6 separate regions of the Homo sapiens genome follow, and regions 2, 3, 4, 5 and 6 are each reported to be linked to region 1. The links are microRNA targets in miRTarBase. Many come from high-throughput screens and were not tested one by one. Region 1 holds a microRNA gene; each other region holds the end of a gene's coding sequence. Distances are from middle to middle.
Evidence for each region. Region 1 holds the annotated microRNA hsa-miR-6808-5p (CAGGCAGGGAGGUGGGACCAUG, at 1,499-1,520, opposite strand). A microRNA usually pairs through its seed, bases 2 to 8, with sites in the 3' UTR of a target mRNA and lowers its output. Matches are read on the target gene's strand: a 7mer-m8 pairs with bases 2 to 8, a 7mer-A1 pairs with bases 2 to 7 and ends in A, and an 8mer does both.

Region 2: the mRNA of BPNT1 is a reported target of hsa-miR-6808-5p. Seed matches in the 3' UTR shown: 7mer-m8 at 2,098-2,104.
Region 3: the mRNA of AGBL5 is a reported target of hsa-miR-6808-5p. The part of its 3' UTR that is shown has no 7-base or 8-base seed match.
Region 4: the mRNA of PHYHIP is a reported target of hsa-miR-6808-5p. Seed matches in the 3' UTR shown: 7mer-m8 at 2,742-2,748.
Region 5: the mRNA of MRE11 is a reported target of hsa-miR-6808-5p. The part of its 3' UTR that is shown has no 7-base or 8-base seed match.
Region 6: miRTarBase lists GTPBP10 as a target of hsa-miR-6808-5p. The part of its 3' UTR that is shown has no 7-base or 8-base seed match.

What each region holds. Positions count from the first base shown.
Region 1 is chr1:1,338,184-1,342,249 of GRCh38, forward strand. MIR6808 (microRNA 6808) reads right to left here and starts at 1,525; the gene lies at 1,467-1,525. DVL1 (dishevelled segment polarity protein 1) reads right to left here. Exons shown (of 15, transcript NM_001330311.2): 4 at 3,870-3,973; 5 at 3,484-3,622; 6 at 2,227-2,320; 7 at 2,064-2,133; 8 at 1,855-1,994; 9 at 1,553-1,629; 10 at 1,399-1,466; 11 at 1,104-1,256; 12 at 339-470; 13 at 86-253.
Region 2 is chr1:220,054,793-220,060,181 of GRCh38, reverse strand. It overlaps BPNT1 (3'(2'), 5'-bisphosphate nucleotidase 1), which reads left to right. Exons shown (of 9, transcript NM_006085.6): 8 at 391-496; 9 at 1,190-2,700. The coding sequence ends at 1,338. Among named protein-coding and RNA genes, the nearest start is that of EPRS1, 11 kb to the right of the region's middle. RefSeq lists an enhancer at 221-390.
Region 3 is chr2:27,068,206-27,073,538 of GRCh38, forward strand. It overlaps AGBL5 (AGBL carboxypeptidase 5), which reads left to right. Exons shown (of 15, transcript NM_021831.6): 13 at 427-539; 14 at 1,368-1,501; 15 at 1,887-2,413. The coding sequence ends at 2,058. OST4 (oligosaccharyltransferase complex subunit 4, non-catalytic) reads right to left here and starts at 3,449. Exons shown (of 3, transcript NM_001134693.2): 1 at 3,396-3,449; 2 at 3,121-3,258; 3 at 2,267-2,516. The coding sequence starts at 3,257. The coding sequence ends at 3,144. RefSeq lists enhancers at 2,928-3,167, 4,598-4,657 and a silencer at 3,218-3,917.
Region 4 is chr8:22,217,027-22,222,415 of GRCh38, forward strand. It overlaps PHYHIP (phytanoyl-CoA 2-hydroxylase interacting protein), which reads right to left. Exons shown (of 5, transcript NM_014759.5): 5 at 2,677-4,861. The coding sequence ends at 4,327. Among named protein-coding and RNA genes, the nearest start is that of PHYHIP, 12 kb to the right of the region's middle. RefSeq lists an enhancer at 2,988-3,688.
Region 5 is chr11:94,416,776-94,420,775 of GRCh38, forward strand. It overlaps MRE11 (MRE11 double strand break repair nuclease), which reads right to left. Exons shown (of 20, transcript NM_005591.4): 20 at 1-3,406. The coding sequence ends at 3,350. Among named protein-coding and RNA genes, the nearest start is that of GPR83, 17 kb to the left of the region's middle.
Region 6 is chr7:90,383,959-90,389,347 of GRCh38, forward strand. GTPBP10 (GTP binding protein 10) reads left to right here. Exons shown (of 10, transcript NM_033107.4): 10 at 934-5,389. The coding sequence ends at 1,196. Among named protein-coding and RNA genes, the nearest start is that of CLDN12, 17 kb to the right of the region's middle.

The sequences.
Region 1 (4,066 bases):
CTGGCGGGGGAGGGTAGGTGAGGGCCGCGGAGGGGCCTCCGGCGTTCCCCTCCCCCCCGCCCTGAAGCCCGAAGCCCCCACTCACTGCTGCAGAGATCCCCGAAGACGTAGTAGCACTGCTCGGAGAAGGTGATCTTGTTGACCGTGTGCCGCAGGAAGCCGTGCTTCAGCAAGCTGCTGGCGTACTTCCGGGCCTCCCGCCGCTCCTTGAAGCCCTCCACGTGTGTGTACAGCCAGTCCACCACGTCCGCCCCTGGCCGGCACCAGCGGTCAGCCCGCAGCCTCGAGGCAAGCAGCCCTGCCCCTGGCACTATCCGCCCGCGGGGACGGCCACTCACCGATGACGGCATTGGCGATGGTGATCTTGAGCCACATGCGGTCGCGGATCTCCAGTCCCGAGTCTGGCAGCTGCATGACCCGGACGACGGCGCTCATGTCACTCTTCACCGTCAGCGGCGCCTCTTCCAGCTCTGCAAAGCACAGACAGCCCCGCTTCAGCCCCAGCATCTGAAGGCGGGGGACTCAGGGCCCTGCACCCCCAGGGGAGCCTCTGGGCAGAGCCTGCGCCAGGGCGCAAGCTGGACGGTGCGTGACAGCAGGGCCCCGGCCCACTGCAGGATGCACCCCCGTGAGGCTGGGGCGTGAGCAGGGGGGTTGGACATTTAGTCTCCCACTTCTACAGACACTTTTCATCAGGATCCTAGGCACAAACTGGGCTGACACCCCACCCTGCAGACCAGGAAGTAATGAGAACAGGGCAGGCCCCTTCCCCTCCCCGCATGCCCCACCCGAGAGCGCAGGCTGTTAGTCGTGTTAATGGCAGGAAGCAGAATGGAGACCTGGCCCCTGCCTCTGACGCCGTGGGTGCTCCCCGCATAGGGGCCCTACGTACATCCCCTGTTCCCAACACACAGACCATGAGCAGGATGGGCTGCACAAGGTGGGCACGGGTGCCTGTGCACACGTCTGTGCAGGGAGTTGGGGACAGGCAACACACACGTGTCACAGCCCCATGACGGCCACAGGCGGCCATGCTGGAGGCTGGCAGAGACGCCCCCTCCAAGCCTCGGTTTCTGCTGGGGCCCTCAGGAGCTGCCACTTACGTGGAGCACCAGGCACGGAGCTGGTTAGTGAGGAGGAGCTGGTGCGCGTGACGGCGCTGGAGCAGGGACTCGTACCGTAGCGGGGCAGGGCTCCTGTCAGTGCCGCCGTGTGGGACAGCCAGGCGGCGGGGTCGATGGGCCGCACCGGGTCAGCTGGGTGGCCGCCACGTGGCGATGACAGGCGGACAGATGGACAGGGTGGGAGGGCAGGGTGCAGGGCACAGAGGAGAGAGGCCTTCAGGCTAGGTAGGCGCCCCCTCCCCATCCCGCCCCGTGTGCCCCGAGGGCCACTCACCCCGTGGGACGGTGAAGTAGCTTCGGGGCGTTGGGTCCCAGCACTTGGCCACAGTGAGGCTGATGGGCCTGCAGGAACGGTGGTCACACAGCAAGGCCCCCATGGTCCCACCTCCCTGCCTGGCCCCTCCCGCTCCAGCGCCCCCAGCCCTCACCCCGTCTGGGAAACGATCTCCCGCAGCACCCGCACGGCATCGTCATTGCTCATGTTCTCAAAGTTCACGTCATTCACCTGCAGGGGTGGGGATTAGGGTGGTGCAGGCAGGATGTGCAGCTCAGTCCACCGCCCCCGCAGACCCACCCACAGCCGCATGTCCCCCAGCAGCCCCCGCAGACCCACCCGCAGCCGCATGTCCCCCAGCAGCCCCTACAGACCCACCCGCAGCCGCACGTCACCCCAAAGTCCCCACGGACCCACCCGCAGCTACATGTCACCCCGCAGCCCCCACAGACACACCTGCAGCAACATGTCGCCGGGCTCGATGCGGCCGTCAGCGGCCACAGCCCCGCCCTTCATGATGGAGCCAATGTAGATGCCGCCGTCTCCACGGTCGTTGCTCTGCCCCACGATGCTGATGCCCAGAAAGTGATGTCTTTCTGCAGGAAGAGCCATGAGCCGCGGCCAAGCCCCTGCCCCTGCCCCCAACCCTCGCCCCGAGGCCTCACCCATGTTGAGCGTGACAGTGACGATGTTGAGGGACATGGTGGAGTCGGTTATGCTGCTGAAGGAGGAGGCCTATGGAGGAGAGGGGGCGTGTGTAAAAGGCACGGGGCTGCCCGACACTGACTTCGCCTCCCCAGCCCCGCCCTGCTCCACCCGGCTGCCTACCCGGTCCGCCTGCCGAAGGCGCTGCTTCCTCCGCCGGCGTTTGTGCTTCCGGATGAGTCTGGATGAGGTGCTCTGCTCCGTGGAGCTGCTGAGCCTGGGAACAGACTGTCAGAGCTCAGAGGAGCTGGAGACATGGGTAGGGGGGTGGGAACCCGCTCCCCCAATACTGAGTGGGAATCGGGGGTCTAGGCCAGGCTTGTTCCAAAGCAGGCTCAGTGCCTGACGTCCACGCCCCAGGCCCTGCACACGTGATATGCATATGAGCACACACGAAAATCCCAGAGACAGGCAAACTGGGCACAGACACATGTAGCCAGATCCACTACTGACACACCTGCACACATGCACACCTGCACACACATGCACACCTGCACACACGCACCCCTGCACAAGGCACACATGCACACACCTGCACACACACCTGCACACACGCAACCCTGCACACATGCACCCCTGCGCACAGGCACACATGCACACCCCTGCACACGCACGCATGAACACACGCACACCTGCACACGCATGCACACCTGCACACACGCACCCCTGCACACTACACACCTGCACAGGCACACATGCACACCTGCATACTCACCTGCACACGCACCCCTGCACAATGCACCCCTGCACACACGCACCCCTGCACACACATGCACACCTGCACACACGCACCCCTGCACACAGGCACACCTGCACACACCTGCACACGCACGCCTGCACATGCACACCTGCACGCACACCTTCACATACACCTGTACAAGCACACCTGCACACACGCACATCTGCACACGCACACCTGCACACACGCACACGCACACATGCACACACCTGCGCACACGCGTGCATTGTGAAAACGCTCACGTGCACACTGTGAAAACGCACCTCACACACACATACATGCACACACAGACATGCGCATCATGTACATAAACGTTTGCACACAGGTACATGCACAGACACATCCGCAATGTGAAAACGCCTCACACAGACACACATGCACAAGCAGACACGTGCATCATGTACACGTTTGCACGCGGGCACACACACAGGCGCGCACACACGTGCACAGTGAAAACACCTCATGTGGAACACGTGCACAAGCACACGTGCATCATGTACACAGACATTTGCAGGCACACACATGCACACACACGCACACACGTGCAATGTGAAAACACCTCATGCAGACACATGCACATCATGTACAGACATTTGCAAGTGGGCACACAGGCATACACGCCCACAGACACTCCCACACACCTGCTCGTGCTGCCATCCTCGTCCGAGTCCACAAAGCTGCTGGACTCAAGCTCGCTGCTGAGGGCGGTGGACGCGCTGTCTGGGGGCAGCCCCACATCCCGCCGTCGGTCTCCCCTTGGGTGCCCATTGGTCCGGGCGGCTGTGGGGGCAGCAGGTTGGGAACTGACTGCAGGGTCTCCCAGAGGTCATGGGTTTGGGGCTGCCTGGGCAGTGCTGCATGCCTGTGGGTCTGGGAGCTGGCAGCTCAACTGTAGGCTCGCTGGGCCTGTGCCTCCACCCAAGCACCGCCACTGGCTGGGGGACAGGAACTGCTGTAGTAGGAACATGGCTCATGGGGGTCCCAGGGAGGCTGGGGGTCCACAGCTGGGCAGACATGACCACTGTACCCTCCTCGCGGTTCCGGCGTCGGGCACGCTCCCGCCGGTGACTGACCATGGACTCCGTGCCTGTCTCGTTGTCCATCCCGTCACGGCTGCTGGCCACATTTGGGCTGTGCAACAAGAGCAGGGTGGGTGGGGAGGCCGTGGCCCCAGCCCCTCAGATGCCGCCCAGCCCAGCCTCCCCTCGCCTGTGGGACCCCAGC
Region 2 (5,389 bases), 220 Mb from region 1:
GTCAATTTTTTAGATGTTGAAAAAACTTGAATTAATTCTGCTGTAAATGTATATTGCTTTTACACTAAAAAAGAAAAACAACGTGAATAAAAGGAACATGTTACTTTATGTAACTTGGAATATGGAGACAGTTCAGATATCCTCTTTGTAGCTTTTTTGACCATTATTTTTCCTTCATATCACTATATTATTATGCATTTATTCTATGTATTTCTTCATAATACTGGTATAATTTAAACCTGCTAAAAGCTTTAACTAAATTTAACAGAGGAACTGATTAAATGTCCTTGATAGAAACAAGCAGTTTTTCTTATCTGTACCTCAATCTTTTCATGACTTTCAATTATTCTTTCTATTATCAAAGGATAATTCTTATTTTTACCCTTACAGATTATTCAGCTGATTGAAGGCAAAGCCTCTGCTTATGTATTTGCAAGTCCTGGTTGTAAGAAGTGGGATACTTGTGCTCCAGAAGTTATTTTACATGCTGTGGGAGGTTAGTCTGTTTTATTTGAGGAAATTCATAGTTTTTCTACAATTATATCATGCTAAGACATAATATCTCAGTAATATTATTTTACTTAGACTGTTACGATATAAAAGCTAGAAGGCAGCTTAGAGATTATCCAGTCCAAACCCCTCATATGATAGATGGATGAGAGAGCAGATTTTCAGCAAGTTTTACTTTAGTTATCGTCTCTTTTTTTGAACTTTGATCTGCATACAGTTAATTTAATTTAGCCCTTATTTATAGCCTTTTTTTTTTTTTGACACAGGGTCGCTATTGTCTAGGCTGGAATGCAGTGGTGCAATCATGGCTCACTGCACCCTTGAACTCCTGGGCTTGTAGTGAACCGAGGTTGTAGTAACTGAGATTGTGCCATTGCACTCCAGCCTGGGCAAGACTCCATCTCAAAAAAAAAAAAAAAAAAAAAAAAGAAAAGAAAATGCTAAATAAAATTAATATTAATCAGAGAAAAAATAATTTTATATCCTTTAGTTAGTTAAAATTGTTCTGTAGTCTTAAATTTCAAGTGAATTAAAACTTAACCTTTATGGACACTCATTATTTCATCCAGAATTTATTGGCTACTATTGGATAAGGAAGCAAAAGGCACTTAAAAATAACTAGAAAAACCACAATCCAATTAGCCACTAACTTGATTGATTGATTGATGTTTTTCTATAGGCAAGTTAACCGATATCCATGGGAATGTTCTTCAGTACCACAAGGATGTGAAGCATATGAACTCTGCAGGAGTCCTGGCCACACTGAGGAATTATGACTACTATGCAAGCCGAGTTCCAGAATCTATTAAAAATGCACTTGTTCCTTAAAGGAAAGTTTCATTTGGCCGGGCGCGGTGGCTCATGCCTGTAATCCCAGCACTTTGGGAGGCCGAGGCAGGTGGATCACTTGAGCTCAGGAGTTTGAGACCAGCCTGGGCAATATCGTGAGACCCCATCTCTACAAAAATACAAATTAACTGGGCATCCTGTCATGCGCCTGTCATCCCAGCTACTTGAGAGGCTGAAGCAGAAGAATCTCTTGAGCCCGGAAGGCAGAGGTTGCAGTGAGCTGAGATCGTGCCACTGCACTCCAGCCTGAGTGACAGGAGTTAAGCCCTGTCTCAGAAAAAAAAAAAACAAAAACCCAAAAAGTACTTAAAGTTTCATTTACTTAGCTAGGAGAAAGACTTGGTTCTCAAAATAATACATTTTAAGATTAATTGGGTAGAATTAGAGTTCCACCTTTATTCATTGTTGAGCAGTGATTTATATTTAGTTATTATATTTAGGAATAGAAAATAGAATTAAATAATTTAACTTGATTAATCAACCAGACCAATTTTGACGTCTGGAGAACTTATAAACTCAATATGTTATATTTGTTTTCCTGTATTTAGGTGGAGAAATGAGAAAAAGCTTTAGTTCCAATTGACAGTTCAGGTCAATGTTCAATGAACATTCCTATCTTCTAAACCAGATTTCTCTTTTTTTTTCCTGAGACGGAGTCTCGCTCTGTAGCCTAGGCTAGAATGTAGTGGCGTGATCTCGGCTCACTGCAAGCTCCGCCTCCCGGGTTCATGCCATTCTCCTGCCTCAGCCTCCCGAGTAGCTGGGACTGCAGGCACCGCCACCACGCCTGGCTAATTTTTTGTATTTTTAGTAGAGAAGGTGTTTCACCGTGTTAGCCAGGATGGTCTTGATCTCCTGACATCGTGATCTGTCTGCCTCGGACTCCCAAAGTGCTGGGATTACAGGTGTGAGCCACCGCACCTGGCCTAAACCAGATTTCTTTAGGGCACAATTTTTTCTGGAATCTCACTCTTGTTTTTCACAGTAATTTTAAAAACGTTTCTACTCCAATTAAGAATATATATGATGTTATTATATATGCTTATGAAACAGATTTATGAGAAAAGTTTTTTTTAAATAAATTATTTAATCCTAGCTCTTTGTTATTCACCAGCTTTTTAAAAAAGTGTTTGAAAATTATACATTCTCGACTTTGGGGATTAGTTTATTCTTGTGGCATCATTATAAGGCTTAATTGTGGAAAGCTAAGTACTTGCTTCTATTCCTTCCAATGAGAGATTATAACATAAACTATTAAAATTATTCTGCTAATATACCTAGATTTTTATTTTTAGGTCTCTGTCCATTGCTTTTAATTAAAATTATCTGTTTTCAAATCAACAAGTGGTTTAAATTAACAGTTCCCAAACTCAACTGCATATCAGAATCACCTAGGAAGATTCTTTTAAAATGCAGATTCACAGGCCAGGCGCAGTGGCTCATGCCTGTAATCACAGCACTTTGGGAGGCCGAGGCGGGTGGATCGCCTGAGGTCAGGAGTTCGAGACCAGCCTGGCCAACATGGCGAAACCCTGTCTCTCCTAAAAATACGAAAATTAGCCGGGCATGGTGGTGTGTGCCTGTAATCCCAGCTACCAGGGGGCTGAGGCAGGAGGATCACTTGAACCTGGGAGGCAGAGGTTGCAGTGAGCTGAGATCGTGCCACTGCACTCCAGCCTGGGCAACAAAGCGAGACTCTGTCTCAAACAATAAAAATAAAAATTCACAGGGTTTATCCCAACGATTTTGCTTGTGTGTGTGTGTGTGTGTGTGTGTGTGTGTGTGTGTTTATTTACTTATTTATTTATTTATTTTGAGACAGAGTCACTCTCTGTCACCCAGGCCAGAGTGCAGTGGTGCAATCTCGGCTCACTGCAACCTCCACCTCCCGGGCTCAAGCGATTCTCCTGCCTCAGCCTCCTGAGTAGCTGGGACTACAGGCACATGCCACCACCCCTGGCTAATTTTTTGTATTTTTAGTAGAGACGGGGTTTCGCTGTGTTAGCCAGGATGGTCTCGATCTTCTGACCTCATAATCTGCCCACCTTGGCCTCCCAAAGTCCTGGGATTACAAATGTGAGCCACCACGCTCAGCCTGCTTCTGTATATTTTAAGAAATTCAGGGACTGATAATCATTTAACTCTAGGACTCACTAGATAAGGTAATATAGTATTATTTTATAGAAGTGTCATAATCTAGCAGGAAGAGGTCTCTGTGGTCTTGACACCTTTGAGCCCTCCCTCCTGTAAGTCTCTTCTCATTGTCCTGGCTTTCTTTTTTCACCTAGCCACTCCTACTCAGTCTCCTTTATTGCTTTCTCTTTGTCTTCCTTCCCTTAAATGTCACTGTTTACCAAGATTCTGTTCTAGTCTCTCTCCTTTCTTTTTTTTCTTTTTTTGGTAGAGATGGGGTCTTGCTATACAGCCCAGGCTGGTCTTGAACTCCTAGCCTCAAGCAATCCTCCTGCCTCTGTCTCCCAATGTGCTGGGATTATAGGTGTGAGCCACTGCACCTGGACTATGCTTTCTCTCCTTTCTCACCAGAGGATCTAATCCACCTGTGTGACTTTTGTGGCGCTTTTGCTCATTAATCCAAAATCTTTAGCTTAGAACTCTCAAACTCTAGATCTATATACCCCAAAACCTACCTAGATGCCTTACAGAGATGTCTGAATGATTATGTCTAAACAGTTCTTCACTCTTGCCCCGACCCCTCCAGAAATTATTTTACAAACCCATGAGGTGATCTTGATAATTGGCCAAGTTAGAAAATCATCACCTGAATCCACCTGCTTCCCTCTACGAATGGAGTTCTCTATCTGTAAATAGTGGACTAAACCTAATTTTTAAAAAATCTAAGTGTAACAAGAGAATAACTTTATTTTTATTTATTTATATATTTCTTGAGACGGAGTCTCGCTCTGTCGCCAGGCTGGAGTGCAGGGGCGCAATCTTGGCTCACTGCAGCCTCCGCCTCACGGGTTCAAGCGATTCTCCTGCCTCAGCCTCCTGAGTAGCTGGGATTACAGGCATGTGCCACCACGCCCAGGTAATTTTTGTATTTTTAGTAAAGATGGGGTTTCACCATGTTGGCCAGGCTGGTCTCGAACTCCTGACCTCAGGTGATCCGCCTGCCTTGGCCTCCCAAAGTGTTGGGATTATAGGTGTGAGCCACTGCGCCCAGCCCTAAGATAATAACTTTTTTTTTTTTTTTTTTTTTTTTGAGATGGAGTCTCACTCTGTCACCCAGGCTGGAGTGCAATGGCATGATTTCAGCTCACTACAACCTCTGCCTCCCGGGTTCAAGTGGTTCTCCTGCTTCAGCCTCCCGAGTAGCAGGGGCACACCACCACACCTGGCTAATTTTTTGTATCTTTAGTAGAGACAGGGGTTTCACCATGTTGGCCAGGCTGGTCTTGAACTCCTGACCTCAGGTGATCCACCTTCCTCAGCCTCCCAAAGTGCTGGGATTACAGGTGTGAGCCACCACACCCGGCCGAAAATAACTTTGAAGGTATTTTCTTCAGGTTCCTATACGAAAACCCAATTTATGTAAGTGAGATATGTAGGAGTCTAAATCCTCTCTCCATTACTCTTGACTCTACATTAATTACATTAGTTTATACCCTTATACCCCGTTATTTCTTCCCTAGATCCCTGCAGTGTCTTGACTAATCTTTCTGCCTACACTGTAACCCATCTATCTCTCTCTCATCCATTTATCACGTCATCTCCAGAGTGATTTTTTTGTTTTGTTTTGTTTTTGAGACAGGGTCTCGCTCTGTCACCCAGGCTGGAGTGCAGTGGTGTGCTTATAGCTCACTGCAGCCTTGACCTCCTGGGCTTAAGCAATTCTCCTGCCTCAGCCCCCCCAAGTAGCTGAGACTACAGGTTTGCACAGTAACGCCTGGCTAAGCCGGGCGTGGTGTCTCACGCCTGTAATCCCAGCACTTTGGGAGGCTGAGGTGGGTGGATCACTTGAGGTCAGGAGTTCAAGACCAGCCTGACCAATATGGTGAAACCCTGTCTC
Region 3 (5,333 bases), not on the chromosome of region 1:
AACCCACCAGTCCTGGGTAGAGCTGACTTGATCCTCAAATGCTAAACATATGATTGCGGCAGTATAAACTGACACAGGAGTTAAGCTTGGGTGCGTTCCGATTCTAGCCTGGAGTTGCTGCTCCACCCCTTGGACCACCAGACTAGAGCCTCAACCAGGGGTGATTTTGCTGCCAGGTGACATCAGGCAACATCTGGAGACATTTTTGGTTGTTACACTGAGGAGGGGGGAGATGAGGAAACAGCATAAATTGTTTAGAGGCTAGGGATGCTGCGAAACATCCTACAATGCACAAGACTACTCCCCACGATAAAGAATTATCCAACCCAAATTGTCAACGTGCCAAGGTTAAGAAACCCTGATCCTTTGGAAGTTACCTCCTCTTCTCTGTGACCCCTACCCTGATCAGTTTCCTCTGTTCCCTAGGGAGCAGTTGCTCACTCTTGTCCTCTGGAGACAAACCAGAGGCTGTCATGGTAATCGGGAAAGGTCTGCTAGGGACTGGAGCTCGGATGCCCTGCATCAAGACTCGATTGCAGGTAATATTTTTGGGTCTCCAGCATAGCTACTCTGGCAGAACCCAGCAAGGCACTGTTCCTCTGGGTAGTGGGAGGGAAAATGCTCAGCACTGCTTTACTGCATCTACCCTTGGCCACATCAGAGAGCTTCTCTGGTGCCTGAGTGCCTGTCTGTCCAGTCCCCTTCCTGCCCTCCACCATCCCCATCAGCCAGGTCATTTGCTTGCTTTCAACCTGTGTCCCTGCCAGATATACCCCAACCTTAGCCTGCTAGCTTTGGCTTTCCCTGCCCCTGCCCTTAGCTTCTCCTCTCTTTCTGCCCAGACCTGTCCGAGGAGAGTTTCCGCCAGGAGGGGTCCCGGATTCCCCAGGTAACACATTTGGTTGCTGCTGCTAGGAACAGCCCTGCCACCAACTCCGATTCAGTCCAGATCCCCATGCTAGGTAAAGCTGAGTATAGGCAGAGGCTGACTGGATGGGTGAAGTGTACACTGCTCTGGCAGGGGCTAAAGCATAGAGGGCTCTGAGAGAGGTCTACCAACCCTCCACTATCTTTCTACACAGTGTTTCTCTACTCACCCAGACCTTAGTCATGGTGTAGCCATGGCGGTTAAATGCTGGATCCGTTTGCCACCCCTAGTTATAGACTTGGAGTGCATAGTCATGGACTGAATCCAGGACTTCTCTGGCTATTATCTTGCCTCACCCTCTCAGCTAGAATTCAATGTCCCAGTACCTCTACTGATCCCTATACTACAACACTCTTATGCATGGAAACTCTAGAAGCAAACTAAAAGCAAAAAACTCATGGAAGAATCCAGCCTCTTAGCGCAAACCCTGTCCACACAGGCTAGGCCCAGGTTGGGCCGGGGCTCACCGCCGACTCGCAGAGGGATGAAAGGCTCTTCAGGCCCCACATCCCCTACCCCCCGGACCAGGGAGAGCAGTGAGCTGGAGCTGGGATCCTGCTCTGCTACACCAGGGTGAGCACTTGGGTCCAGTCCCTCACACCACCCCTCACTTCTGTCCCCTCATTCCCATTTCTGTCATTCAGAATAATTTTCTGCTTCCCTACTCCTTTTGAGCACAAAGACTAAATGTACTTCCATTAAGAATCTAGTCCCTGATTTTTTTTTCCCCCACCATGGCCAAGTCTTCAATCCAAAGCAAAAGAAAACAACTTTTAGTCAGGGCCTAAGGTCTAGGAGCTGGCTGGTTCCAGCGTCAAACCACTGTGCAGTAACCAACTTGCCCATCCTTACCCATCTTCATCTCGCTCCACTTCTTTCACTTCCCAGCCCCTGGTTAGCAGAACAGAAGAGGAGGAGAGTTTTCACAGCCCTGATTCCTCTCTCTTTTCTGTTGCAGGCTGCCTCAGGCCAGGCCCCCACGGCCCCGCTCTGCCCCTGCCTTTTCTCCTATATCCTGTAGTCTATCTGACTCCCCATCCTGGAATTGTTACAGCAGGGGTCCCTTGGGCCAACCTGAGGTTTGTTTTGTCCCTAAATCTCCCCCACTGACTGTTTCTCCCCGGGTCTGATAATGCCTTTATGTTCAAGCCCAGGATATAGCCCCAAGATGGGGTAACAGTGGGAAATATGCTAGTTCCCCTCCAGGCCGCTGATTCCATGTGACAGCCGTTAAGTCCTTGGAATGCCAGCCACGCTGTCCAAGGCATTACAGAGTATCACCTTGAGACAGAACAAAACAGGGACCTGCCACCCCTTCCCTCCCTCCGCAGCACAAGATTTTGGGACCACAAAAAAAAGTCTATATTTTTATATTGGGGGGAGGGAGTAGAAAAGCAAGCCCCTATACTGGGCCCTATTCAGTGGCAGCTTCTTGTTCCATAGGATTAAGGAAGACTCTGAGGAAATAAAAGTTGTTTGGAAAAATCCAGGTGTAGTTGCTTTGTATGTTGTGATGGGTAGAAGGGATGAAGTGAAGTGTGAAGGCCCCTCATACCCTCCATCTTGCCTCAGACTATGTCCTGGAACCCTAGAAAAGAGGGGGAAAGACCTGAGGTAAGGAAAATGCTGCAGCTTTCCTCTGGGGAATCCTTCAGGAAGTAACGCCCATCCATGTTCCCTTTATACTTGTGACCCACACTTAAGGCTGGCTCCAAAGCCCCCCCTTCCTTCTCTATAGTTTGGGTCAGCAGCCAACCCCTGGCCTCAGAACATGGAAACAGAATTCTACATCTGTCACCCCCCTCACCAAAAAAAATCTGCCCAAATAAGGCCTAAACAACCTGGGGAAAATGAGGGCTATTTAAGAGCCCAAATCCTCATACTTGGATGGTTCCCTCGGTACCTTCGTTCCTACCGGTGTCAGTGCCTCCTTACAACTATACTCCCAACTTGGGCATCTACCTACTGGAGACTGTGAGGGTTAGGCAACCCACTCCCATTCTAGCAGGGAACAGGTTACGGGGAGAGGACAGCGCGCTCTCTCTCTACTCTGTGCAGACAAAGGGGCCCAGTTCTGGACTGTATCATGCTTGGCCCGACACTTTCTGATTGTAAGTTTCGAACCCTGCTAGCCCTGGCGCGGCCTCGCCACTCAGCTCTGGGGACTGGGCGCTACAGCCCCGGGCCGTTACCTGGGGCGGAGAAAGCGCCACTTTCATTCCTGCTTCTTGGGATTGTTGACGGCCACGTAGTGATAGAGAACGACAAGCAAGAAGAGCGACACGCCCAGCATGTTGGCGAAGATGGCGAGCTGCACGTCCGTGATCATCCTGCGGAGAAGAGAGGGGCTGAGCTGCGGGCTGGCGCACTCCTCGCCCTCGCAAGAACCCGTCCTCGCCCCACGGGCCAGCCACGGCCACGGCCACGGCGGGGCTGGCCCGTGGGACGGCCCCTGCGTGCCTCTGACCTGACCAGTCCGGCTCGGCTCCGACGCCACCAGCGAACAAGCCCGAAGTCAGAGACCTGGACCGGAACTTCGTAGCGCCAGCTCAGGCCCGAACAAGCCGCTTCCGGCGGGGGGCGCGGTCGGGACGGCCTCTCTAGCCCCGCCGTCTCGTCGGCTCCGCGCGGCGCGTTACGGCCGCGGCTGGGGCGGGGCCTCGGGCGCGGCTGCGGTGGGAGGTCCAGCCGTAGGGGGTGGGGCGGGGCTGCGGACGCGCGCCTGGGCCCGGCACCGCACAGCTGGCTGCAGCTGGCGTGGCTCGGGACGCGGCTAGCGAAGCCGTGGTGGCCGCCTCCCCGGAGCCGAGGAGTGGGCTGGGGCGAGGGTGCAGCGGCGGGGCCGGCGGGATACTCCAACCCCCTTCCGGCCCCGGCCCTCAGTACTGCTGCCCACCCTTCGCTTCCCGGCCCGGCCCAACCAGGTGCTTCCTTTGGGTCCTGCCCTCAGTGCCCTCTCCCTGGCCCGGACGGCGGGGACAGGGGTAGGAGGCGTTGTAGAATGGGGACAGGGCTGGTGCTGCCGGGTGCTCCTTTCTCCGGCGCCATCCTTTGTGACCCACATGCAACCAAGTAGAACCATCCTGCCTTTTGTGATCTGACCAGGTTCTGTCTTAGCCGGGCTCCCTCCCTCCACCCTACCCCCCGGAGGTGGGCGTCGGAAATAGGGCGGACCCTCCCGGAATCAAAACCCAAACCGTGGGACTTCGGCCAAGTGGGAAATCACCCCCCGGATGTGGGGGAGGGAGAAGGGGAGGAATGGAGAAGAGGAGGAAGGGCTGGGACAAGCAAGAGGGGTCCTGGGTTCAGGACAGATTAGGTCGCCGAAGAGAACGAAGAGCGGTGGCTGCGGGTAGCCGAGGGTCTCTGGCGAGGGGAGAGGCACCCTGGAACTCTCCAAGCCTCTGCCCAAGCCAGAGCTTTCTCCCCCCTCACTCCATGCTTTCTCTCAGCTTCACCATAAAAGGGAACGGCACTGAGCCAGGCCGGGGCCGGGGGCTGGGCTGTTGCTCTGGAGCTGTCAGGGGTAATGGAAGCCAGTTGCTTTGCGGTAGAGGGGGGCCAGGGCTCAGGGGAGGCCTCTGCTTCTCGGAGCCAAAGAAAACTCTACAGGAGATGCTATGGGCTTGGGACAGGGGACCAGTTTCCCGCCTGTGTGCACTGAGCTGGGGATGCACTATCCCAAAGTAGCCTTCCCGGGCCTGGGACCATCAACAGCTTGTCACCCAAGGGCTTCAGCCCCGTGGCTTCTAAACATAATCCCTGCCTTTAGTAGTCTGTAGTTCCCGTGGCCTCCCCGCACCTCACCACCAGCCCCCACTCAATATTTCCCAGAAGCTTGATATTTAGAAAGCCGAGTCCCCTCCACACAACACTGGTGAAACCCCAGACAGGTACTCCCTTATGCATCCCTCAGTAAGCGGTCTGTTTCCAGCTCCTCTCTGGGAGAGTAAGGGTCTAGGTCTTAAGGATTACACGTCATTATGCTTCATGTCTCCTGGAAATTTGAAGCAGATCCAAGTCCAACCAAACACTTAGGTCTACTGTTGAATCAGAACTAGCCCTCCCTTTTAAAAATAAGCTCTACCTTTAGGCCAGCCCTGGAAGTTAAACTTTCTAGACTGAAAATGACAGGAAAGCAAGCCTTGAAAGTGCTTAAAACCAATTGACCCAGGTGCATAGTATCCTAGACTATCAGAGCCGAAAGGGGCCTTCAAAATCATCTTATGAAGAAAGAAACTGGCCAGGCATGGTGGCTCATACCTGTAATCCTGACATTTTGGGAAGCCAAGGCGGGAGGATCACCTGAGGTCAGGAGTTCGAGACCAGCCTGGCCAATATAGTGAAACCCCATCTCTACTAAAAATACAAAACTTAGCTGGTGGTGCATGCCTGTAATCCCAGC
Region 4 (5,389 bases), not on the chromosome of region 1:
GGAGGACTGAAACCCTCTCAGCTGGGAGTGGAGAATCCTGTGCAGGCCCGCCCAGAGGCAGAAGGGTTGGCCCCGAGTCACTCCATTCTCAGAATGCTGGATTTGAGGTACTGCCCACTACTCCCTTTGTTTTTCAAAAGTTGGGGTCTCGCTCTGTGACCCAAGCTGGACTGCAGTGGCACGCTCATAGCTTACTGTAGCCTTGAACTCCTGGGCTCAAGTGATCCTCCGACGTCAGCCTCCCAAGTAGCTGGGACTACAGGCGCGTGATACCATGGTCCGGCTCCGCTCCACTATGCCTTTAAAATAAGCTTCTGTGCCCTCCGTGACTCCATAGCCTCCCCCCGCCCACCCCTGTGATATTCTGGAACTAGGCACAGACGTGCTTAACTGGTGTTGTGGAGGGGACCCCTGGGGGTGTCACTGTGTCTGAAACAGGACTGTCCCAGGTAGCCCCTGACATACACTAGAGGAGACAGGCACAGGGCAGAAAATGGGAAGATTCTGGTATCTCAATCAAAGCCTGGGCACTGTCACTTACAGGCTGTAAGACATGGGCAAGGCTTTGTGCCTCAGTTTCTACTTCTGTTAAGTGGGAATAATACTCCCCAGGACCATCGTGAAGACTAAAGAAGCTGATGTGTGTGACAGCACCCAGGTGCCTGGTGCATAGTAGGCCCTCAGGAGCCATCATCTGCCCTTCTGCTTTCCTTTCTACCCCAAAAAGGCTGTGCCCTGAGCTCTGGATGACACACGTGAACATGGCCTTGAGTCAGGCAGTGTTGGTGAGGACTCTGACTTCTTTAGAGCTTTTCTACTCCAGCAGAGGACCATATCAATAAGTCCATAACAATAGATGCAGGCCAGGTGCAGTGACTCAAGCCTGTAATCCCAGCACTTTGGGAGGCAGGAGGATCACTTAAGCCCAGGAGTTTGAGACCAGCCTGGGCAACACAGGGAAACTCCATCTCTACAAAATAAAAAATGTTAAAAAACCTAGCTGGGCATGGTGGTGTACGCCTGTGGTCCCAACTACTCTGGAGGCTGAGGTGGGAGGATCACTTGGGCCCCAGAGGTTGAGGCTGCAGTGAACCATGATCGTGCCACTGCACTCCAGTCTGGACAACAGAGGAAGACCCTGTCTCAAGAAATAAAAATAATGGCCAGGCACAGTGGCTCGCTCATGCCTGTAATCCCAGCACTTTGGGAGGCTGAGGTGGGTGGATCACTTGAGGTCAGGGGTTCGAGACCAGCCTGGCCAACATGGTGAAAGCTCATCTCTATTAAAAATACAAAAATTATCCAGGCATGGTGGCATGTACCTGTAGTCCCAGCTACGTGGGAGGCTGAGGCTGGAGAATTGCTTGAACCTGGGAGGTGGAAGTTACACTGAGCCAAGATCGTGCCACTGCACTCCAGCCTGGGTGACAGAGCGAGGCTCCATCTCAAAAATAATAATGATAATGATAATAATAAAATGATAGATGCAGAGGTGACTGGGATCTATAAACGGGAGCTGTGTTGGGGAGCGGGGACACTCAGGCACTTGGGACAGGGACATTTGGTGGCATCTGGGTCTGGAGCAATGGCAAGCTGCTGTAGTAGGAAGGCTTCAAAAGCTCCAAACGGGGCCTCCAGATGCTGTGAGTCCTCTCCTAGGACGCCCCATGTGGGAGGCCCCATATGGGAAACACTGGGTGGGACCAAAAGACTCCAAAGTCCCTTCCAAGCTGGAGACTCAGCTCTACATCCTGAGCCCCGCCTCCCACAATGGACGAGGTGCTCCCTTGGAGCTGATTTCAGGTCGCCTGTCCTGGGGGCATTCCCACCTGAGCTCCTCTGTGGTTTGCAGAACTCACCCATACCATCACTGGCCCAAAGGGATGGGGTGCTATGGTCTGAATGTTTGTGTCCCCCCTAAATCCTAGGTTGACTTTTTTTTTTTTTTTTTTTTTTTTTTTTTGAGATGGAGTCTCACTCTGTAACCCAGGCTGGAGTGCAATGGCGCAATCTCGGCTTGCTGCAACCTCCGCCTCCTAGGTTCAAGCAATTCTCCTGCCTCAGGCTCCTCAGTAGCTAGGATTACAGGCATGCACCACCACGCCCAGCTAATTTTGTATTTTTAGTAGAGACAGGGTTTCACCATATTGGCCAGGCTGGTCTTGAACCCCTGACCTCCACTGATCCACCTGCCTCAGCCTCCCAAAATGCTGGGATTACAGGCGTGAGCCACCTCACCCAGCTCTAGGTGGAAATTCTAACCCCAAGGTGATAGTTTTAGGAAGCAGGGCCTTGGAAGGCGATGAGGTCATGAGGGTGGGGCCACATGAATGGGATTAGTGCCTTTATGAAAGGGGCCCAAGATGGCCCAGAGCAGTGGCTCATGCCTGTAATCCCAAGCACCTTGGGAGGCCAAGCAGGTGGGAGGATCACTTGAGGCCAGGAGTTTGAGGCCAGCCTGGGCAACAAGGTGAAATTCCCCATGTCTACAAAAAAAAAAAAGGAGGGGCAAGAGAGCTTGCTAGTCCCTTTCACCCTGTGAGGACACAGTGAAAAGAGCCATCTGTGAAGCAGGCCCTCACCAGACACCGCTTCTGCCAGCACCTTGATCTATGAGAAATGAATCTGCGGTTTCTGAGCCACCCAATGTGTGGTATTTTGTTACAGCAGCTCAAATGGACTGAGACGAGCAGGGCCCTCAGGCCATGGTGGTTTATTGATGCACGTCGCAAGCACAGCACAGGCAGGCGGACCCCAGCCCCGGGGGGACATGAGGGCCAGGGGAGGGCAGTGGGCCACCCCCACAGCAATGCTGTCAGCACAGGGGGAAGGAAAGGGCCTGGGCCATGTTCTCTCCTTCTCCACACCTCTCCCCAAGCCTCCAGGCCTCCTGACTCATCCCAGAGAGACAGCTGGCCACACAACTGCCCCTGGCTACAGATAGGTGACCGTTGTCCACCTGTCCCTCACCGAGGTATGGCCTTGCCGGCCCGCTGCTGCTTCCGTCCTTCATCACGAAAATCCAGCTGCTCATCCATCATCTCTGTCACCTCTGAGAAAGTCACTGTGAGGCTGCACTCTCCTCTGCCTGATGTCACCTCCATCATCCCCCAAACAGCCGGCTGCTGCTGTCAGCCCCTCCCACAGGCTCTCTGTTTGCTTTGTTGATTGTAGGGAGTCCACCCTCGTGACCTGTGTGACAGTAGGAATGAGGCAAAAACACAAGGAGGCCCGGGAAGGACTTCACCAAGAACTCCCCGGGGAGGGGCTCCCGGCCAGCAGGGTGGCAGGAGAGCAGACAGAGCCAGTGGGGAGGGGAGAGGCGGAGCAGCAGAGGGTCCACAGTCCAGGTCACGCATGGGCACAGTACAGTCATGGCACCATGGCAGAGCGAGTGAGCAAAGTGCACAGCTGGGCGGGGTGCCGGGGCCCGCGGGACAGCTTACAGGTCTCACGTTCCATGCCAGGCCCCAGCAGAGCATGAGGCGGCCCACTCCCAGCTGAGGAAGGGGCACCTCTGGGTCTCAGGGGTCTCCTCCCCCTCCTCAACCCCAGTGGCTGCTGTCTCAGACCCCTGCACTCTAAGCAAGGAGAAGGTATGCTGGGGTATGGAAGGAAGGAACATCCGACAGCCTGACGCCCCCAGTGCCAAGAGAAGAAAGAGAGTTCCTTTCTAGAGAGCAGGGGGAGTGTCCCGGTGGGCAGGTGGAGAAGGAGGGACAGCTCTCCCATGCAGGAAGAGGGTTCTTTGGGGCAAGGAGCAGCCAGGGAGTCACGGTGGTGCAGGAGACTATTTATAGAAGGAAGGGATCCAGGCCTGGAGTGGGAAGCCCCAGAGACCCAGCTCAGCAGGGAGGGGGCATTCTGTGGTTGGCCCTGAGTGGGGTGAGTGGGACTAAGAAAGATCGCCCCACAGCTCTCTGCATCTCTTCTGGAGGCAGCCAAGCTACCCATGGGCTTTGGCCCAGAGGGGCTTCCCTGGGAGAGCCCAGGAGGTGGGCAGGTCTTTGGGAGATAGAGACCTGGACGAGGCAAAGAACAGTAGGACAAGGAAACCAGAGGAAAGGGGAAGTTCTCCAGAAGTCCAGCCCAGCTGCCAACTACAGAGGCTGAGAAGCCTTTCCATGTCCACCAGGCTGGGTGTGGGCCACACTTACCAAGAGGACCACCGTCTGTTGCCTCCAATGCCAAGGGGCGAGGGGAGGGCAGCTGGGCAGAGTGGAGGGAGCAGGGGGGCAGGAGAGAGAAAGCCAGCTCCCTGAACCTGGGCTACCCACCTCCACCTTCCGCTCATCTCTCCCTCGCCCCCCAGCTCCCCAGGAGTCCCTAGCGGCCCACGCTGATGTTGCAGGTCTTGCAGCTGGGGTCCTTCTTGGCATCGGCAGTAGACAGACTCATGAGCTGGTGCCCACTGATCTCCCCCAGGGTGCCCAGGGACAGGTCGACGGGCTCAGTGTAGATGATCTCCAGGATGAGGTCCTGGGCGTGGCGGAAGACCAGCTCCCCATCCTCCACGCTGCAGGTCAGGAACTTGTTGCAAGCAATGTCCAGGAGGGGCAGGCGGTCGCGGCAGAAGCGGTCCCCCAGGGAGCCTTTGGGCGCCAGCACCAGGATGGCGTAGTGGTAGGCCGTGTACATGCAGTAGAAGTCCGCAAAGTAGAGGTTGGTGCTGGGATTGAAGAGGCGCTGAGCTGGGATCTGGAAGCGCCAGCGGCCGTAGGGGGAGTCCTGCGGGGGCTGGCCCGTGTTGAACTCCGTGTTGCAGCTGAAGAAGACCCCGTGGAGCATACCGCTGGTGGGGGAGCCGTGGCTGCCACTGTTGTCCTTCAGGTAAGGCTGCAGCATGTTCCCGCAGTGGGTCCTGCCCACCCCAGGGAGACACACCAAAGGGAAGAGAAGATGTGGCTGGTGAGCCGGGCTGAGGCTTGGCTGCTGCGTGTGGTCGAGGAGGGAGGAAGCCAGCCCAGCTCCCAGCCCTCCCCCAGCCGCCTCCACTAGTCGCAAATAGAACATTCCAGAATGCAAGAGCAGGGAGGGCCCTGGAGAGGGATTCAACCAGCCCACTCCTTCTCAGAGAAGAGATATGAAGCTGTCACTCCCCAGCTTGAAACCCTTTGATGGGGTGTGTGTGAAAAACACGGCGGCTCATGATCTGATCTCTGTGGTCTCCTTGCCACTCCCCACCTCCTGCCACCCCATCCACTTACCCACCCCCTGCACACACAGTCTCCTGCCTCCGTGACCCCTATGCAGGACTCTTCCCTCTGCTGCACTGACTGCCCTCTCCACCTTCCTCCGTCTGGCTTGGCAAACTTCTAATTAGCCTTCAAGCTTCAGTCAAGCGTCTGCTCCCCTCTAAAACCTCCCAGGAACAGCAGACACCTGCACT
Region 5 (4,000 bases), not on the chromosome of region 1:
TGGAGCTTGCAGTGAGCCGAAATGGTGCCCCTGCCCTCCAGCCTGGGCAAGAGTGCGAGACTCCGTCTCAAAAAAAAAAAACAAAAAAAACCCAAAATACTATGAATTAAATTTATGACAGATACAAAAAGGACATCAGATTTCTTTGGGGGAAAGTCGCTTTTAAATTCTATATTTCCAAAAAAGATATTTTACATTTAGATACTTTTTTTTTTTTTGAGATTGAGTTTCACTCTTGTTGCCCAGGCTGCAGTGCAATGGCACAATCTCGGCTCACTGCAACCTCTGCCTCCTGGGTTCAAGCGATTCTCCTGCCTCAGCCTCCTGAGTAGCTAAGATTACAGGCACACACCACCATGCCCAGCTAATCTTTTGTATTTTTAGTAGAGACGAGGTTTCACCATGTTGGCCAGGCTGGTCTCAAACTCCTGACCTCAGGTGAACCCCCTCCTCGGCCTCCCAAAGTGCTGGGATTAAAGGCATGAGCCACTGCACCCAGCCCATTGAGATACTTTTTTACTCAGTTTTTTTCTAAGAATGGATTTTCCTCTTTATGAAAACAAAATATTCCTTTTCTTTATAAAACTTTATAGGCAAATTTATCAAGCTGGTAAATTCCATAACAGGCTGAACCAAATGAAATACCTAAGTAAAGCAAATTACATGATTAGAAGGCTAATTATGGTATTACTGCATAGGTTTAGTATTAATGCATATGTTCTAAGTTTATTGCAACTACACTAACTTCGTAATTTTAGATTTGCAGTTGCATCCTCCTAACTGCGTCTAATGGCAGAAGCACCACCTTGTGGCAAAAGTAGGAGCTTTTAAATTACAGAAGTTAGGGCTTGTTACCCAGAAAGGAGAAAACAATATAATGGGCATCCAGGACACTGCGCTATTTCTTGACCTGTAGAGGGATTCCATCAGTGCTCAATTTATAATTATTTATTCAACCATATGACTTTTCTGTATTTATTGTATTTCCTACTTTTAAAAGTTTGGGAAAAAAGTCTTTTACATACCTGAATTAAAGGTCACATTCCTAAATGCTTGAATTTTCTAAGCACCACTTATATTTTCAAGAATTTCCTAGAACTTCGAGGAATCTTTAACCTTGTAAATGCACTGTTGTATTTTTATGATAGGAAATAAAACACCAGAAAGACACTTATTCTTTGGTAAGTAACAGAAGAATTCCCTACAGATGTCTTCCTCTGAATGTTTTCATTCCTGCTCTCCCAAAGCCTCCAAGAGCAAATGCAGCTGCTTTCAAATCATCTGAAAGACTTCTACATTCCTATACCAACAGGTCTGAAAATTGTTAGAAACAAAAAACAAAACTCCCCTAAAACCAACAGATTTTGCAGGATCAATATAAAATATTAAGGATATATAGCACATTTAACTATGTAACAATATTCAATCAAAAAAAGGTTTCCCTGTCACGTTTTATTTACCATATTTTCAGGGCTTGATACATAGTATTCACAAAATGACCTGAATTAGCTGGAGAGATTTATCACCCTCTGTAACTGCTATGTCATCACTTTCCTTAGCGGTGAACTGAATCGCATTTAGTACCTCTTTTCACAGCCAAGAGCAATTTTTTTTTTTTTAAGGAAAAAAACTTTATTCCTTTTTTCCTAGGAACTTGTCAGGATACTTTAGTGACCATTCCCTCACTATAACTCTCACCCAGACCCACCTAACTGATGCATGAGAAGAGCCACTAGCTGATGTGGCCCACAGCTCAGACTGAGCCAGCATGGCTTGTGCAGGGGTAGGTAGCACAGCATCATCCAGACACTGCCTCCCCTGGTAGCTTCCATTACATCATGGACAGCACTGCTCTTCCCTGACTTAACCTTCTGCTTTGTTCAAATACTAGAAATATTAGATTTCAAGTTCAATAAAGATGTGGGCAGATCTGCCTAAGAATATTTCACAGGACAATGCCTTCCACTGAGTTAATGTTACTTGCTCAAATAACCCTTATGCTCAAGTTAGGTACAGAAAAAATATTTTTAAGAAAGTCAATAGAATGTTATATTGCAAGTTTTGACTTAGGCCTCTTCAAAAGTGCTATATGAGGCAGCCACTAACCAAGTGTCTGTCTCTTATAATTTGACACATTCCAGGTATGACTATTCTAATGGTCATGAGTATCACTGAGTCAAGTATTTGTTTCTACCTATGAAGAAATGTCGGGCCATTGTACTCCCAAGATGTATAACTTGAATTTTAAAGTAAAGCTGTCGCATAAAACTAGAAGAAGGAATAATCTCAGGGATCTTTTTACAGAGGATTATAAAGAATGGGATTATTTAACTTAAATCTGAAGATGTCTAATTCTTATTTCTCCCCGAAAACAAGTAAAAAATAGAAGCTTAACATGGGCTACTAAGATTTCTGGAATTGCCCATTCAGAAATGTATCACAGGAACCAAAGTTGAGATAAAATATTGTTAATGAGAAATCCTGGCATTGACATTCCACATTAAATATATTTCTATACTTTACTGTAAGGTTCAACTGACCACTCTACCTAAAACAAATTCTTCAATATTTTCAAGATGTAGTTTAAAACAATTTTTAACCCGTTTCCTCCTAGAACTAGGCACGCATATATGTATGAAAGAGAAGAAAAAGCAAAGGAGAAAGGAAGAGTGGGGAACGGGGGGGAGAGGGAGAGAGAGAGAGAGAGAGAGAGAGAGAGAACACCATTAAGGATACAGAATAATAAAGGAAATTACTACCACTTAATGGGAACACAATCTTTTGAAATCTTTGCTACAACTGGAATAAAAAACTCAGTAATTCTGAAAGGTTATTCTACTCTTTTAAATAAAAACATATCTGTTCAAACTATTAGGTACTTCTAATCATTTAGTCTTATAAGAAGCATTGGAAAAAAACATACATAGTAACAAACAGTGAATTTAGACATAGGTTCGCATAAATTGTTTTACTTTCAGAAAACCCAGAACCTCTAGGAAATTACTAAAATTATGAAGAAGTTAAATTTTATAAGCTCTTTCCCTCAACTTTGGCTAAATGTAACCATATTAAAATACTGACATAGTTTTTCATTATGAAATAGAAATGTAAAATGGTAGCTTTATTTTAATCTTTACTCAAGAGTGATATTGAAACAAAGCTCTTACTACAACAACCAGGTTAAAAAAACAAGGTGAATCAATGCTATTGTATGTCTGTGAACTAGAAATTTCTTACTTATGGAGTTATGCTCAGGAAACAATACTTAAAATCTTAAACTGTAAACTCTTAGCTTGTAACATTTTCATTTTTCCTGTATCTTGCATGTTTCTCAGTGCCATTAAATATATTATCTTCTATTTCTTCTTAAAGAACTAGTGTTCATAAAAGGATCATCATCATCATCCTGAAATGAGATACAAATGTTGTATTAGTGATTGTTCCCTGCTTCACTGAAACAAGACAGAAGTTCTTATGGGCAAAACAATACCAGTGAGAGTCATTTCACATGGGATAGACTTTATTTTTCTATTTCCTTTATAACTGCAAAATATATTAAGTACAATTAAATTCTTAATGAGCATTAAAATGAAAATTTATCCTGCTGTGTGTGCATGTATCTACAATATAAACCACACACATTTCCCTTACTAACCTTAATAAAGATAAATGAAGTATAGGTAAGCCAGAAAAATAATTCAAGTCATTTTATATTTGGTTTTTGAATATATTTTCTCATTTACATTTTATTACAGTTGTATCTACTCTTCTGGAAATTCACAGCGAAAAAATAATGAAGCCACATGGAGATCCAACTCAGAAACAGCTGTAATTTTATTTCCCATTACCATTTAATACTAGAAATAGCTAGCTACTCTCACACTTATGCAAAAAACAACCTAGCAAAGCAAGCTTTCAAATAGTTTTTTGGATAAAAAAAGAAATACATGCAGTTATTTCAAGAGTTCCCATGCTGGCCGGGCGCGGTGGCTCACGCCTG
Region 6 (5,389 bases), not on the chromosome of region 1:
TACTCATGGGATATAAATATTCTCTGATACTAAATAGCCTTCATTCCTAATGACATTTGCTTTGTATGGTCATTAGTTCTTTTTGCTAGTTGATCTTGCAGAGAAGGGAATTTTCAGAGGAAATACCGAAAGTGAGGGTGACTCAGGAGTCTGTAGCTGTTCTGACCTATCGTGAAATAAAATATAGGCCCTTTAGTGATAATCCTGAGTTATCCTCTCTGGACTTTCTTCGGGGCTTTTGAATCTCAGAAAGTAAGCTCCATGTTGTCTTCTCCACCAATCTGTTTCAGTCCAGCCTTTCTAGTTCATATCAGTTAATCCATCTAATCAGTATGCCATCTCCCCAGCCAATCAGTATGCCATGGTGACAGGGAAGAGGTAAAAGTAATATAACAATTGTTAGCCCTTGTGGGGTGATAGATTGGACTCATCTGAAATTATCTTCCCTTGAATTCTCTATAATCCCTCTTCAGTTTTTGTATGGATCCTAGCATCATTGATGATAAACCTATACTTTGGGGAAGTTAAAGGTCTCCAGTGTACTGAGGCCAAGTAGAATGTCTCAAATCATAAATGATGTTATTATTTTTACAGAAAGTATCTTTCAGAGAATCAATGCTGCCTTGCCTTATTTAACCCCCCCCACACACACAAAATTTATTACTTCCTTAAGTAAGTCATTTTTGTGATTCATCTTCTACTCATACTTAGTTTGGTTTAAAATATATTTATCTAACAAGTATGTTATGTGCCAAGAACCTTACCATAATCAATGGTAAAATCCAAAGGCTCTGAGAACTTATTAGAAAAGGTGAAAAAAGGCATGAAAAATGCTGGTGTTGGTTCCCTGCTTCACAAATCAAACCATTAACATGGTTTTAACTAACTTTCGAAAACAATGGAAATCAGCTTTGTTTGTGCTCTTTCTTTTAGATTTTCTGCATTTATTTGAAAAAAACATGATTCCAGAGAGGACTGTAGAGTTCCAACATATCATCCCCATATCTGCAGTTACTGGAGAAGGAATCGAAGAATTAAAGAATTGTATAAGAAAGTCACTGGATGAACAGGCCAACCAGGAAAATGATGCACTTCATAAGAAACAGTTGCTTAATTTGTGGATTTCTGATACAATGTCTTCTACTGAGCCACCATCAAAGCATGCTGTTACTACTTCCAAAATGGATATAATTTAAATATATTAAAAATGGTATTGATGGAACAGTATTTAATGCTTAAAAACAAGGAAATCCTTTCATCTGTGACAACCTGGAGGACATGTTAAGTAAAATAAGCCAGGCTTAGAAAGACAAATGCTGCATAATCTCACTGTGGAATCTTAAGTTGAACTCATAGAAGGAGAGAATAGAATGGTGGTTATCAAGGGCTGGTGGGGCAGTGGAGGATTGAGGAGATATTGGTCAAAATTTACAAAATTTCAGTTAGACAAGGCAACTGAGTTCAAGAGATCTGTTGTACAGCTTGGTGACTGTAATTAACAACAATGTATTTTGAAAGTCACTGAGTAAATTTTAAGTGGTTTTTCCAAAAAAGCACATAAGGTAATGCACGTTAATTAGCTATATTGAGCCATTCCACAATGTATAGATATTTCAAAACATGTTACACATGATAAATCCAGTTTTTCTACGTCATTTTTTAAAATTATATTTAATTTTTTTATTTTGAAAGTTTTTTCACAGATCTTTTTTTTAGTATTATTACCTTCTGATATATGTGTCATTATTGAAGAACCATACCTTTTAAAGTTATTATTTTGTAATTAAGTATGTCAACAGTAAAAAATAACCAGTGGCCAGGCATGGTGGCTCATGCCTGTAATCCCAGCACTTTTCGGAGGCCGAGGAGGGCAGATCACTTGAGGTCAGGAGTTCAAGACCAGCCTGGCCAACATGGCGAAACCCCGTCTCTACTAAAAATATAAAAAATTAGCCAGGCATAGTGGCGCATGCCTGTTGTAGCCCCAGCTACTCAAGAGGCTGAGGCAGGAGAATTGCTTGAACGCGGGAGGTGGAGGATACAATGAACCCGAGGTCGCGCCACTGCACTTCAGCCTGGGTGACAGAGCTAGACTCCATCTCAAAAAAAAAAAAGAGCTAAAAAATTACATTTTACAAGTTTATGGCCAGCCCACCTGTAATAACATTCTCTGATATTCCTTTACTTAGGATGTCCCTATTGAGATCATTTTTTAAATTTATGTGGAAGGATTCTCTAGATTATTATTAGAATGAGCAATTCAGTTTTGTTTGTTTTTGAGCCTGTCTTGTACCTGGTTGCACTAAATATATAATAGTTATCTTTTGTGGAGACCTTAAAACCCTAAATTTGAATACATGTTCAATGATAGTAAAGATATGACAGAAACTAGAAGATAGCTGTTTATGATTTGAGCTTTTGGAAAATTTTCGTTTCTTGAATGTAATAGTATTTTTTCCTGAATTGGAGGAGACTGATCTATATTGTTTCATTTTTCTTTTGTCCTAGTCTATTTCACTTTCTTTTGTCATAATCTATTTAATTTCCCACTTTCTTATTTTAGTAAAGAGAGAATAAATAGCAAGTGCAGGCCAGGCATGGTGGTGCAGGCCAGACATAGCGGTACATGCCTGTAATCCTAGCACTTTGGGATGCCAAGGCGGGAGGATTGCTTGAGCCCAGGAGTTCATGCCTGAGCAACATAGCAAGACCCTGGCTCTCTATAAAACAGAAAACGCAAACTTTAATATTATCAACAATCAATATATTATAAGAGATTGCAATTTCTAAGTTTCTACCTGAGTGTTTCACAAATACAAACTGGACATTTTCCCTTTAAATGAGTTTTATTATAAAATGTACATATTGATTGTAAAAACAAAAAATTCAAATAGTACAAAAGCATATAAGTAACTAATAAAAGCTCCCTTTCTGCATTAGGCCCCTCAGTTCTTCCCAGGGAAAATGATTAATAGTTTACATTCTTGCAGAAATTTTTTATGTATAAATTTTTACCCAAATGAATTCATTATATAAATTTTTTCCAACTTAGTGTTTTTTTACATAATAGTAGCAAGTTAAAAAATTGTACTTCAGGCCAGGCACGGTGGGTCACGCCTGTTAATCTCAGCACTTTGGGAGGCTGAGGCAGGAAGACCACTTGAGGTCAGGAGTTCAAGACCAGCCTGGCCAACATGGTGAAAACCCATCTCTACTAAAATACAAAAATCAGCTGGGCATGGTGGCGCATGTCTGTAATCCCAGCTACTCGGGAGGCTGAGGCAGGAGAATCGCTTGAACCCGGGAGGCGGAGGTTGCAGTGAGCTGAGATTGCGCCATTGCACTCCAGCCTGGAGGACAAGAGGGAGACTTCCTCTCAAAAAACAAAATATTGTACTTCAAAAAATTATTCTTCAATGCTATTTTTAAATTACTAGAAATTATTTTGGAATTTAATGTTGCATACAGCCTGAGATATGGCTGTTCACCCTTTGGTAAAGTATTAAAGAAAAATAATGCATTGTTCTCAGCTTAAATTTTTTTCTGATTTGACAACATGAGTGATGTTTTCCCAGTATTATTTCAATTATATTTGTTTTATTTTCTGTTCCTCACTCCTACCTCTCATTCCAGTCCCCAAACTGGCTTTTCTTTTATTTCTTTTTTCTTCATTGCTGATGTATTTATTGAGCAATGTCCTGTATCAGGCACTGTCCAAGGTGCTGTATGTGCCATGTTGAAGAGAACAGACAGGACCTACTGTCCTTGTATATCTTGCCTTTGATAACAGAAACTGCAGGGGATTGGAATAGCCTCTTTACAAGAAAAGAATAAGAGTGAGGAAAAGCGTTTGGAATTTATAGTGATCACAGTGACCAGGTTTTGTATTGGGTATGTTTTACATTTGTAACTTCAGTGCTATTTTTTTTTAAGCTCCATTGTTTTCTAAATGTAAACAAGTATCAATGTAAGGACAGTTTCATCAGGTGAATATCAGAAGTACTGACACCATAATCTCATTTTGCACTGTGGCAAAGGGTAGTAGATGTGTGTTCAGGATTATTTGCTCTGTCAGTAGTGCCCAGGGTGCCACTCCATGACTAACCGAAACATTTTATTATGTGACTCACTAAGATGTTCAATTCATTAGTATTTTCTGGTTACTCAAAGTGTACTCTATGTACCTTTTTTTGACCTTTGATTTTTATTCTGATGGAGAAGATCAGATTCCTTTTTTATCTTATAAAAAATAATTTTGAAACAAAGACTTATTTTGAAGTAAGTCTTTTAACATTATCTCAGATGCATTTTATTTTGTCCTTAAGTAAGACTTTTCATTTTTACCTTTCAAAATGCAATTTTCAAAATATATGCTTTTTTGAAACACTTATTATGTTACTGAATAACCAGAGTATTAAATTCAATGTACAGCAAATTTTTACAAAGTCCCAGTAGTTCTTGCAGAGCTTTCTATAATATCAGATTTATTTACCATCATGAAATATGTTTATACAGTATTAAGTATATTGTACTATGAAGTTGGACCTGCACACTGAAAAATTCCAAAATACCTATTATGTTGTGCTTTTTGTGATATATATTCATATTATTATTTGTCATAACAAGGTGAACTTTTTTAAAATGGTAAACATGTATTAGTTACATAATCAGGAAAAAAGTCATCTTTTATAATGAGAAAAATTAGGTCAAGGATATTTCAGGTTTTATCCAATTAGATTTCTTGTAAAGTTATGTGTTTTCTTTTATCTCAGTGCTTATTTGCTTTGCAAGGATGAAGGTTAGAGATTCCTTTCAGTAGTTAATGAAAGCTACAGACTTGTCTTGCCGAAAAATGTACATAAACACATAAACTATTTTCCAAGCAGTTTCACAGTGTTTGCAAAGTTCAGATTGAAAACCCAGTTTTACAAATCCCATCTACAAATTTGCATTGTCATTAAGATATATTAAAAATAATTTTTCAAAGCAACAGCACAGATGCACTTTAAAACTGTAGCTTAAAAATAAAAATTAGTAATATAACTTGTGTAAACCTACACAAAAGATAAAAGATATCTTATTGCAAAAATAGGGCAACATTTTGTTTTAAAGACCAAATAGTGAATTGAATTTAATGCATATCTTTAAATCCTTAATAGTATCTCAAATCTGGTTTAAATCTGTCTCTCCTTAACGGAATAGAAAGTGAAACAAATCCAGAAATCTTGTTCGAGTACATGGTCTGTGCTAGTAATCATATCTAAAGTGGTAATGTTACCATATGCTGGGTACTGGGCTGAGTAAATCACATATTTTAACTTATTTAAACACTGCACTGTATTGCCTGCTAGCGATGTCATTTTTTTAAAGTTGGATGGTGAATACATGA